Regions from separate parts of the Homo sapiens genome. Here region 2 is linked to region 1. Evidence: fine-mapped expression QTL. A gene starts in region 1. The other region holds a variant in brackets. All regions are shown on one strand. Distances are from middle to middle.

The links. PIP is the estimated chance that this variant, and not a neighbour inherited with it, causes the effect. A credible set is the group of variants that fine-mapping cannot tell apart.
Region 2: its variant is the best candidate, but not a certain one, in a credible set for the expression of DMXL1 in aorta (GTEx, PIP 0.83).

Annotation. Positions count from the first base shown.
Region 1 is chr5:119,068,549-119,073,930 of GRCh38, forward strand. It overlaps DMXL1 (Dmx like 1), which reads left to right and starts at 2,539. Exons shown (of 44, transcript NM_001290321.3): 1 at 2,539-3,108. The coding sequence starts at 3,022. It overlaps DMXL1-DT (DMXL1 divergent transcript), which reads right to left and starts at 2,342. Exons shown (of 3, transcript NR_134250.1): 1 at 2,258-2,342. It overlaps LOC124901209 (small nucleolar RNA U13), which reads right to left and starts at 852; the gene lies at 749-852. RefSeq lists silencers at 2,306-2,385, 2,696-2,975.
Region 2 is chr5:119,245,241-119,250,622 of GRCh38, forward strand. It overlaps DMXL1 (Dmx like 1), which reads left to right. Exons shown (of 44, transcript NM_001290321.3): 44 at 1,755-3,887. The coding sequence ends at 1,979. Among named protein-coding and RNA genes, the nearest start is that of MIR5706, 93 kb to the left of the region's middle. The variant C/G (reference allele first, on the strand shown) is at 3,040.

The DNA.
Region 1 (5,382 bases):
CGACAGAACCTTAGTAGGGGAATTTTATGACATTAGGAGATGATCTGTGAGGGGCAGCATCTTGGAGGCAAAGGGAATTTTGTTTGTTTGTTGTTTTTTGTTTTGTTTTGTTTTGTTTTTGGGATGGAGTCTTGCTCTGTCGCCCAGGCTGGAGTGCAGTGGCGCAAGCTCTGCTCACTGCAAGCTCCGCCTCCCGGGTTCACGCCATTCTCCTGCCTCAGCCTCCTAAATAGCTGGGACTATAGGTGCCCGCCACCACGCCTGGCTAATTTTTTTTTCTGTATTTTCTGTAGAGACGGGGTTTCACTGTGTTAGCCAGGACGGTCTTGATCTCCTGACCTCATGATCTGCCCGCCTTGGCCTCCCAAAGTGCTGGGATTACAGGCGTGAGCCACCGCGCCCCGCATCTTGTTGCTCAGTTTTATTCTAATACGTGGAATGCTCTTCAAAACTAACAAATGGGCAAAATAGAATGAGTAAACATGTTAAATTATGAACCAGCCACAGAATTTATGTGGGAGCCACACAAGTACAACAATCCTGGTTCTGGGTCTAAAATATAAAATTAAAAAGCACTTGAAGTATAATTTGAAATAATAAAAGACAAACTGTAGGTATGTTAGACCTCAAAAAATAAGTATATTTTAAAAAAAGACAAATTAAGTTTTGTCCCTTATCTTATGAAAAGCCTGGAATACATAATGAAATTCATTTTTTAAATAAGTTTCGGGTTTTTTTTTTTTCCCCACATCAGATGGGTAATGTGCAGATGATGGCGCAACAAGGTTTGAGGGAGGGACGTCTCACACAAGTGTGAACACACAATCATCCCACTTATGAACTAAAAAGTATCTCGTAAGTAGCTTTTTATTGTCAGACAAAGTAAATGTACATTGCAAAAAATGTAGTAAAAATAAAAGGAAATAAATTTACTAGTACTCGTCCCACCCTAGTATTATTATAGTTTGAAGTCTTCATACTACAACAAAAGGGGGAGTTTCTTTATTTTCTTTTCTCTCTTTTTTTTTTTTTTTTTTGACTTTCTCTCTTGTTGCCCAAGCTGGAGTGCAATGACACGATCTTGGCTCACTGCAACCTCCGTCTCCCAGGTTCAAGCGATTCTCTCGCCTCAGCTTCCCAGTAGCTGGGATTACAGGCGCGTGCCACCATGCCAGGCTAATTTTTTAATTTTTAGTAGAAACTGGGTTTCACAATGTTAGCCAGGCTGGTCTCGAACTCCCAACCTCAGGTGATCCCCCCGCCCCCACCTCGACTTACCAAAGTGCTGGGATTACAGGCGTGAGCCATCGTGCCTGGCCTATTGGAGAGTTTTGAGGGTTGTTTGTTTTGAGACGGGATCTCACTCTGTCACCCAGGCTGGAGTGCAACGGGGGTCTTGGCTCACTACAACCTCTGCCTCCCGGGTTCAAGTGATTCTCCTGCCTCAACCTCCCGAGTAGCTGGGATTACAGGTGGGAGCCACCACGCCCGGCTAATTTTTGTATTTTTAGTAGAGAAGGGGGTTTCACTATGTTGGCCAGGCTGGTCTCGAACTCCTGACCTCGTGATTCACCCTCCTCGGCCTCCCAAAGTTCTGGAATAATAGGCGTGAGTCACCGTGCCTGGCCTATTTGGAGAGTTTCTATACACATTCATGCAACATTTACAGAACACCCTGAATGGGTGGGACTGGTGCGGTGCTAGACATTAAGGACAGACTTGTGTCCTGTTCCTCTGTATTCCAAAGAGGCTTACGGTATACAGGGGGAGACATATAAACAGATGTTTGTCAATTATAATACAAAACTTGTGTCAAAATACAATGAGAGTTGAATCTCAGTTTGTAGCTGTGACTCTGATCATTCTGGAATTCCTAGGTTCTTTTCCAAAACAAACGCTCAATGCAGGGCTGGTGTGTTGTTATTACCAGCACTATTTCAAATCACGTGTTAAGATAACTTAGGCTAAGAAAATACCACTTTCCTACTTGTCAAGTGTTCGAGCCTTTCAAAAACCATCCCGTTTAGGGACTTGGAAACACGCGCAAGGCTGGAGAAACCATTAAGCTGCTAACGTAGACGTTTCAAGGGTCACATTTACTCAAGAGACACTCAGGTCGCCCGGGGGAGCGGTGCATATTGGGACTTGTAGTCCTACCAGAACCGAGGAAACTGCAACTCCCTTTAGGATGCACTTCTCCCCTTTAAATTTTCTGGCCCAACAGTTAGATGACGCCCTAACCTAAAGCACAACTTACCACATCTCACTCATTCTGGGTTCATCAGGCTTCTGCCAGGCTTATCAGGTTCAAGCTCAAACGCACGGCGTTCTCCTGTAGAAGCCTCAAAGAGATTGGCTTATTCTCGGTGGTGGGCGGAGCCCTAGGTGGACCGGGGGTCGGGATTGGCCAGTTTCTGACTAGAAGAGGCGTTTTTATGTTCACTTGCTGATACGCACGCTGTGGTAAAAAAGTGAATTCTTTACCACAGTAGCAGCTGCCCCGAGCGAAGTCTCGCGATATTTCGGCCGCAGGGATCCAGAGGCGCGTAGTGAGTGGCGGAGGACTGTGGGGGTGGCGGGCACCGGAGCCGGGAAGGGACAGGTCAGGCGGGGAGTGCGAGCGCGTACTGCTTGCGCCACTCGGGCTGGGTCAGGAGCGGCTGCCCGAGGTCCAGAGGAAGTGTGTGGACAGCGCGGCCTTCCTGGCCGGTGAGTCGGCCCCGGGTCGTGGCCGGTGAGGGGACCCTGAGCTTCACCTGGGCTAGCGCGGGGAGTGACAGGTGCGCGAAGGAGCGCGGCGCTCCGCCCTCTCGCCGACCCGCCCCCTCCGGGCCTCGCCCTCCGGGGCTCGGGATGAGTCGCGGGCCCCAGCTGAGCGGCTCCGGCTCCAGGCGCCTGTCGCTGCTTCTGCCGTCGCCACCGAAGAGCGGCCGCCGCCCCTGAGGGAAGGAGGGAGGGAAGCAGCCGCTGACCCGTGGCATGAGCTGGATGCGGTGTCCGTTGCAGGACTAGGGCGCCGACATGAACCTGCACCAGGTGCTGACCGGGGCTGTGAACCCTGGCGACCACTGCTTCTCCGTGGGCAGCATTGGCGACCAGCGCTTCACGGTGAGTGAGGGAGGCCCTCGCGTCGCCCGTGGCCCGGCCTTTGCCCGTCATTCTGGGCCGAGCTTGGCCCAGAACGACGGGCAGAGGCGCGAGGTCTTGTCTCCCCAGGGGGGTCCTTACCACCCAGAACCCAGCAGACCTGGCCCTTGAGAACTAAGGAAGCAAAACCATGTCGGTCAGTGAGGTACTGTATGGAGCCTGAACTCAAGTTAGAATATTTTGTAGGATTTTTAAAGTTTTTGGTCTGTCTGCCTTGGGCCAGGGTGCTTTGCCAAAGTCGTTTGTTCAAAAATCTTTGTTGAGTAACGAGTTGGGGGCTTTTTTATACCATTCTATAGGTTCAAATTGTCAAATTTAGGAATAGTGGAGATTGGTTTCATTTTGTATTCTAAGTTAAGGTCAAGTATCTTTGTAGTTAAAAAGTGGGTGTCTCAAAACAATTACCAATTGTTTGCCATCAACAACTAGCCTTGAGAACAGTGTTTTTCATTTATTTTCTTTTCTAATTCCCTGAGAAATAACTTCGGAAAGAAAAAAAAGCCTTTTCATTTTTAAAAATATTTCTTGGATATTTTACAATAACCTGGTAATCCCAGGTTAAGGTTGCTTAACTTGCTTTTCATTGGTCACATATTGACAAGAAGAGGGCACCAAATTTCGGGCTACTTGTCAGTATAGTGGCATTTTTCTACCTTAACTATAGGTTTTTTTTTAATAACAATTTCAAAATATAAGTCAGTAATTGCACATGATACTTTTATCTACATAAATTTATAATGCTAATGATTTTTGCTACAATTTGTGTAGATACCTCTTTAGTTGTGATTAAAAGTAAAACTTGTCACTGCCTGGGAATACTAAGTGCTGTAGGCTTTTTTCTTTAAAAAAAATAAAAGTAAAACTTAATTTTGTATAAGTGACACAAAGTAAACAACGTAACCAATGCCCCAGGTTTAGGAGTGTTAAATTTCTAATCTTTTTCTCTGCTTTTAATTTTTCTGTGGTCTTTGTTGGTCAGAATAAATAATACTCAGCATTTAAAATGGTGGAGGCATTTAATGCCTGAATTGTACTTTTAGAATTGTGCCAAGAAGCATTTTGTTTTCAAATAGAGACTGTACCTCCCCTTTAGATTGACTCATACACATCTTAATTATCGGGATTCCAATTCTAAATGTTTGCCCAGCCTGAATACTTGGGAAAAGAGTGAGCTCTGAGGGTCCCAGTGAGCAACTATAGTTTCCTTACACCTGGGCATTGCTCTCTGCTCTTGCTGCTTGAGAGGAAAGTAAACATCATCCTTAGAAGGTTTTCCTAGTGGGAAATTATAGGATAATATTGTTGCATTCTCTGTCATTTCCTAAATTTATATGAGTGCTTTCTCCAGTGTAAATTCTAAGAACTTTTGCTTTTTAAAAACTTTTGAAATGAGGTCTCCCTCTGTCACCTAGGCTGGAGTGCAGTGGCGGGATCACAGCTCACTGCAGCCTCGACCTCCCCGGCACAAGCCGTCCTTCCACCTTAGGCTCCTGAGGAGCTAGGACTACAGATTCTAATCACCACGGCTGGCTAAGTTTTCTATTTTTTGTAGAGAGGGGTCTCCTTATGTTGCCCAGGCTGGTCTTGACTTCCTGGGCTCAAGTGATCCTCCCACTTCAGCCTCCCAAAATGCTAGGATTAGAGGCGTGAGCCACCATGCCCAGCCCTAAGAATTTTTTCTAAGAAGGCATTCACAATCTATGTAAGCAGTGGTGTGAACTTCAAAGCATATGCAGTATGATGGCCTATTTATATACCTGGATGCATTCCTCTATAAAACCTTGGTGAATGTCTGTGTATTGTTTTTAAGGAGAGATCAGTTAATGTGCCGAGGAGGATTAGATAGATGGTCATCCTGTACCATCATGTAGCTTGTTGCTCAGTTCTGCTGAATTTTAAAGTTCATTTCCATTGAGTAGGATTTAATCTCCCACCAAGCCTACTGCAGATTTCTTCCAGGTCTCTGGAAGCATTCAGTAAATAAACTAAAAATAAATTTTTAAGTATAAAGAGAGTTCAGCTCTCTTTAGTTTTGATGGAATTTTAAGGATTTAACAGTCATGGTTTTCCTTTGCAGCCTGTTCATCCTTGACTCTTTAAGTTGCTTACGCTCATTATCCTGGACACTTATATACACCTTAAATTTTTCTCTCTTGAAATCGCCCTTTTTTCTTCTCTCATGTTAAAAGGCAGAATCTATTGTTTACTTCTTGAGTTGTTTTGTGTTGTTTTTTT
Region 2 (5,382 bases), 180 kb after region 1:
TTAGACTAATCCCTATGTTATTTTAATGGTCAGCAACCCTAGACTAGGGGGGTTTAGTTTCATCGAATTTATTAATTTAAGCACTTACACTTATTTAGTAGAATCAGATGGGTTTTTTAAAACCAGCAAATTGTTTTCATAATTCTCAACCAGGAAAAGACTAGAATTATGGAATTTTTAAAAGCCTTTTTCTTAAAATCAAATATATATATACCAACAGAATTATTTTCCTTCAGTTTGAAACTACTTTCTTATTTGGACTGACTCTCTAGTTTAGAATATGCCATAGTTAAGTCGGTTCTTTTTTTTTTTTTTTTTGAGACGGAGTCTTACTCTGTCGCCAGGCTGGAGCACAGTGGCACGATCTCGGCTCACTGCAACCTCCACCTCCCGGGTTCAAGCGATTTCCCTGCTTCAGCTTCCAGAGTAGCTGGGACTACAGGCGTGCGCCACTACACCCTGCTAATTTTTTGTGTTTTAGTAGAGATGGGGTTTCGCCATGTTGGCCAGGATGGTCTCGATCTCCTGACCTTGTGATCCGCCTGCCTGCCTCTGCCTCCCAAAGTGCTGGGATTACAGTTGTGAGCCACCGCACCTGGCCTAGATTGGTTCTTTAGTTTGTACTTTGATCCTGTGGTTTATTGTTTAATCAAGGTTAAAAAAAAAAAAGAGTTGAAAATATACAATGTATTCAGAAGCCCTAATTTAACAAATTCATATGCAGGGTAGTATGAATTAATGAATTTCTTAGAGTAAAGAAACGTTTAGAAAAATGATCTCCAATAAAACCAGGAAATAAGTAGGTTTCGCTAAACCTAAAATACATGTCCTGAAAGCATTTACGTTCTTCCCATAAGTAAAGATGCGTATAATTTGCTTTACAGGCACATTTATTTTGATAAGGGCTGGAAATACAAAATCTTAGTAAATTAAGTATCCTGAAATTGTAATAATTGACTTTGTCTTATAGTTAAAATATAGCTTTGCCTGGTCAGAGGGCCTCTAGGTGTCAAGTACTTCCCTCTTTCTAGCTGTTCTGATCCCTGGTGAGCATTCAATAATGTAAAGAAGAGATTACCTTACTGTACACCTATACGGCAAAAGCTCTGCTGAGAGATAGGAAACGTTGATTTTAATCCCTACAGTATTGTAAGTTTCTGTAGCATTGTACACTTAACCTCCTTGTTACCTACATTGTTTCTCTTACTCTCTTACTAGATGGATTTTTAAGTATTTTGTGTTAAAGCAATTGGTAGATTACAACACTCTATACAGAATCAAGGTGTTATGATCCTAGGCCTACACAGATTTTTCTCTATTTTTGTTTTGGAAATTCCTTACTGCACAGGAATGCAGGCCTAAAATTTTTATTTGGTTTCTTTTCTTTTCCTTTTTTTTTTTTTTTTTTTTGAGATGGAGTTTCACTCTTGTTGCCCAGGCTGGAGCGCAATGGTGTGATCTTGGGTCACTACAAACTCCACCTCCCGGGTCGAAGCAGTTCTCCTGCCCCAGCCTCCTGAGTAGCTGGGATTACAGGCATGTGCCACCTCGCCGGGCTAGTTTTGTATTTTTAGTAGAGATGGGGTTTCTCCTTGTTGGTCAGGCTGGTCTTGAACTCCTTACCTTAGGTGGTCTGCCTGCCTTGACCTCCCAAAGTGCTGGGATTACAGGCATGAGCCACCGCACCTGGCCTCATTTGATTTCTTAAGGTCATCATCAACCCTAATTTTCCGTTTGTTCTTAATATCTTTCAGATTTGGAGTCTCTCTACCTTTGGTCTTCTCCATACTTTTGTCAGTGAACATGCTCGGCAGTCCATTTTTAGAAATATTGGAACTGGAGTGATGCAAATTGAGACAGGGCCTGCAAATCACATTTTCTCCTGTGGAGCTGATGGAACAATGAAAATGAGAATACTGCCAGATCAGTTTAGCCCTTTAAATGAAGTGTTGAAAAATGATGTGAAATTTATGCTATAACATTTTTACAATAAGATGTACAATTTATTACCTATATGGAAGTGGCCAACAGATATAATATACAGTGATCATTCTCTATGCCACAAATTAGCTAATGCTTTCTTGTTTTTATATTTATTTTATGGAGCTTTGCCCTTGATGCACTGATGCCTTAAAAATTAACAAGGTCATTCAGAAGTAGATTACATTGCCTAAAGTAGAATGTGTAAGTAATGCTGTAATAATACATATCATAGTATATTATAATCAGTATGTCATAGTGTTAAAGGTGTTTTGTTTTCTTATTGATACTTTTCCACAGGCATCTCTGCATGAATTTCTTCCACAGTAAAAATACGTTTTTTGTAAAGGCAATTGTACATAATACTCATCACTTAATTCACCACACTCTCACTTCCTTTATTAGCCTTATACATCTCAAACTCTTCTCTTAATTAATGATAGGTATTTGAGTAAGAATGAAAAAAATAATGAACATCTTCATTAAAATTGTCATTGAGACGTCAGTGATAAATGAGCTAGATGGCTCAATATGTAAGGTTTTCAGTAGTTTACCCTCCGGAACCCAAGTTGTATGTATGTATACGTGTGTGTGTGTGTGTGTGTGTGTATCTTACACATCTTATTTGAACTTAGTTGTATATATTAGCGAAAACTGGTTTTTCATGTGTTTTTGTGCCATAACAACTATTGCCACCAGAATAACTTTTTTTTTGCAACTGTGCTTTTCATTTTTAAAAAATTTTTGAATTCCCATCCTAATTTTCAAATAAGTTTCAAGGAGACTATCAGGATTATTATTTTAAAGATTAGATTTAGTCAAATAAGTCTTAGCAGGCAATAAAGTTTCTGTGGTGGCATATATCATGTAAGACACTTAAAGTAAGTTTGTGAATTTGTCAACTTTCGAGCATCAAACAAATATTTTACTTAAATTTTATTTTATCTTATTTTTAGGTGCTTTTAATCTCAAAATTCTGAAAAGCGAATAGCAGTGTTTTCAGAAACAAATGTGAAAGCAGTCAAATTAAGTAGATACTATTTAGAAATGTAAAATACT[C/G]TCCAGATCTACCATTAATAGAAAATAAACTAAACCTTATATTTTATTTTTGCCAAAATATTTTATTATAAAATATGACCAAAATATTTAAAATGCACAATGCTTTTAACTTAAATGTGCTAACCCTGTTTCTGTCTGTTTTGTGCTGTACCTTTTCTGATTCAGAATTATAGAAAACTTGATAAATACTTGATTTTAACCAATGAGACTACAGGCAGATGGGACTAAGTGTTTATGGGACAATTATGTACTATTTAACTTAAATATATTTTGTTTAATAGGAAATATATAATAATAGCATTTTATGTAATAAAATATGGGCAACGATTATCTTGGAAATTAAAGAGTCAAAGCAAAGAAATGAAGGGCTGGTAAAATGAATTTTGTAATATCCTCAGGATACTTTTATCTTAAAAGTATGTTGTTAAAGATTTTGTAAATTGTATTTCAACAATTTTAAATGTGTTGAGCAAGTTGCAGTGCAAACACTGTCATTATGTAGAGAGTTTATATGCACATAATAACCTGTACCTATAAATCGTGCAATAACCATATGCGACTATTTTGCCATGGAGAAATCTGACAGCATTGCAAACAATAGTATTGTTTGATGTAGTTAACCTTAAGTTATTTTTCAGTAATTTCTTCACAAATCAAGATTCAAACAGCTTTAAACACTTCCAATGAGATAAAATATTTACTATTATGCTTATTAGAACAAAAGGTGTTTAAGGATGAACTAAATATTTTAATTGAGCATTTATATGGATAATCATACATTATGTAAGCCCATATGTATTTACATCCAGAGTCATAATATTTTAAATAAACAATCATGCAGAAACTTTTTTAGGGGGTATACTATTGTTTTAATATCGTTGCCAATTTAGCTGACTTAAAATATGTGACATTTTAAAATCAAGAATTTCCATATTTGTATTTGGTTAATGTAAGGAGGATGGAATAACTTTCCCGAATACCCTGTTCTTTTCTACCGTCTTTTTAAGTTGATAGGTAAGCAGCATTCAAGGAAGGTGGGAATAAAAATTGTTGAAATGTTTAAATATAAAATGATATACATATATGTAAAATTTCATTATCCACATTAATGGAGTGGATACATCAAAATACATTTTTTAATTGTGTGTTTCCTAAGAATGTGGCTTTGTGATCATATAAGGATTCACAACATTAACAAATCTTATTTTCTGATATCTAGGATTTTTCTTAACTAAAACCATGGACCAGTCATCTCCATCCTCCTTTCTTGCTCTTTGCCCTTGCCCTCCCTTCTTTGAAAAAAAAAATATTTTTTAGAAGAATTGCAGAAATTTCTCACATTGGTCCCAACAATGGAAACACAATACAAAGACACATTCAAAGAAAAGTCTATACAACCTTAGGGTGGAAGTGATCTTTTTAACAAGATTGGAAACACAGACATATTTTACTTAATAAAAAATTTAAATGTCATATGGCAGGGACCACAGTCAAAGTTAAAACAACAAGTAGACTAGAAGAAATATTTGTATAGTAATAGGAAACATGTCAGTGTCCCTGTATACAAAGAGAAGTTTAAGTTATTGGAGAAGTGGTCACACTGTGAATAAGCAATTCACAGAACAGGACATTGAAAAAGTCAACAAATATAAAGTGTGTTCATCTTCATTATAAGGGTTAATGGATTGTTTTTTAAAAAGTATTACTGTAATACTAGTTTTTATCAGATTGGTTTAAGGTTAAATAGTGACAATATCCATTTTGGTGAAGATGCAAGGAAATTGGCAGAAACATTGCTGGCAAAGTTATCTGGGTGTGAATTAAAATCAAATACACATAACTTTCAGTGAACAACCTTCTGAGAAATTATAAAAATAAAAGCTTCCATGCATAAAAATGTAAGGACACAGATGTTTATTGAAACATATTCTAGAGGCCAGATGTGTTGGCTCACACCTGTAATCTCAGCACTTTAGGAGGCTGAAGCAAGCACAGGTCACTTGAGGTCAGGAGTTTGTGGCCAGCCTGGCCAACATGGTGAAACCCATCTCTACTAAAAATACAAAAATTAGTGGAGTATGGGGTTGTGTGCCTGTAGTCCCAGCTACTCAGGAGGCTGAGGCAGGAGAACCACTTGAACCCAGGAGGTGGAGGTTGCAGTGAGCCGAGATCATGCCACTGCACTCCAGCCTGGGTGACAGAGCAAAAGTCTGTCTCAAAAAATAAAAATGAAAAAAAAAAAAAAAAAAAAACTGGAAATCTAAATGTTAATTAGCAAGTAAATGGTTGAATAAATTATGGTACATACATGTAATATTATAGAATATTCTCTCACCACTAAAA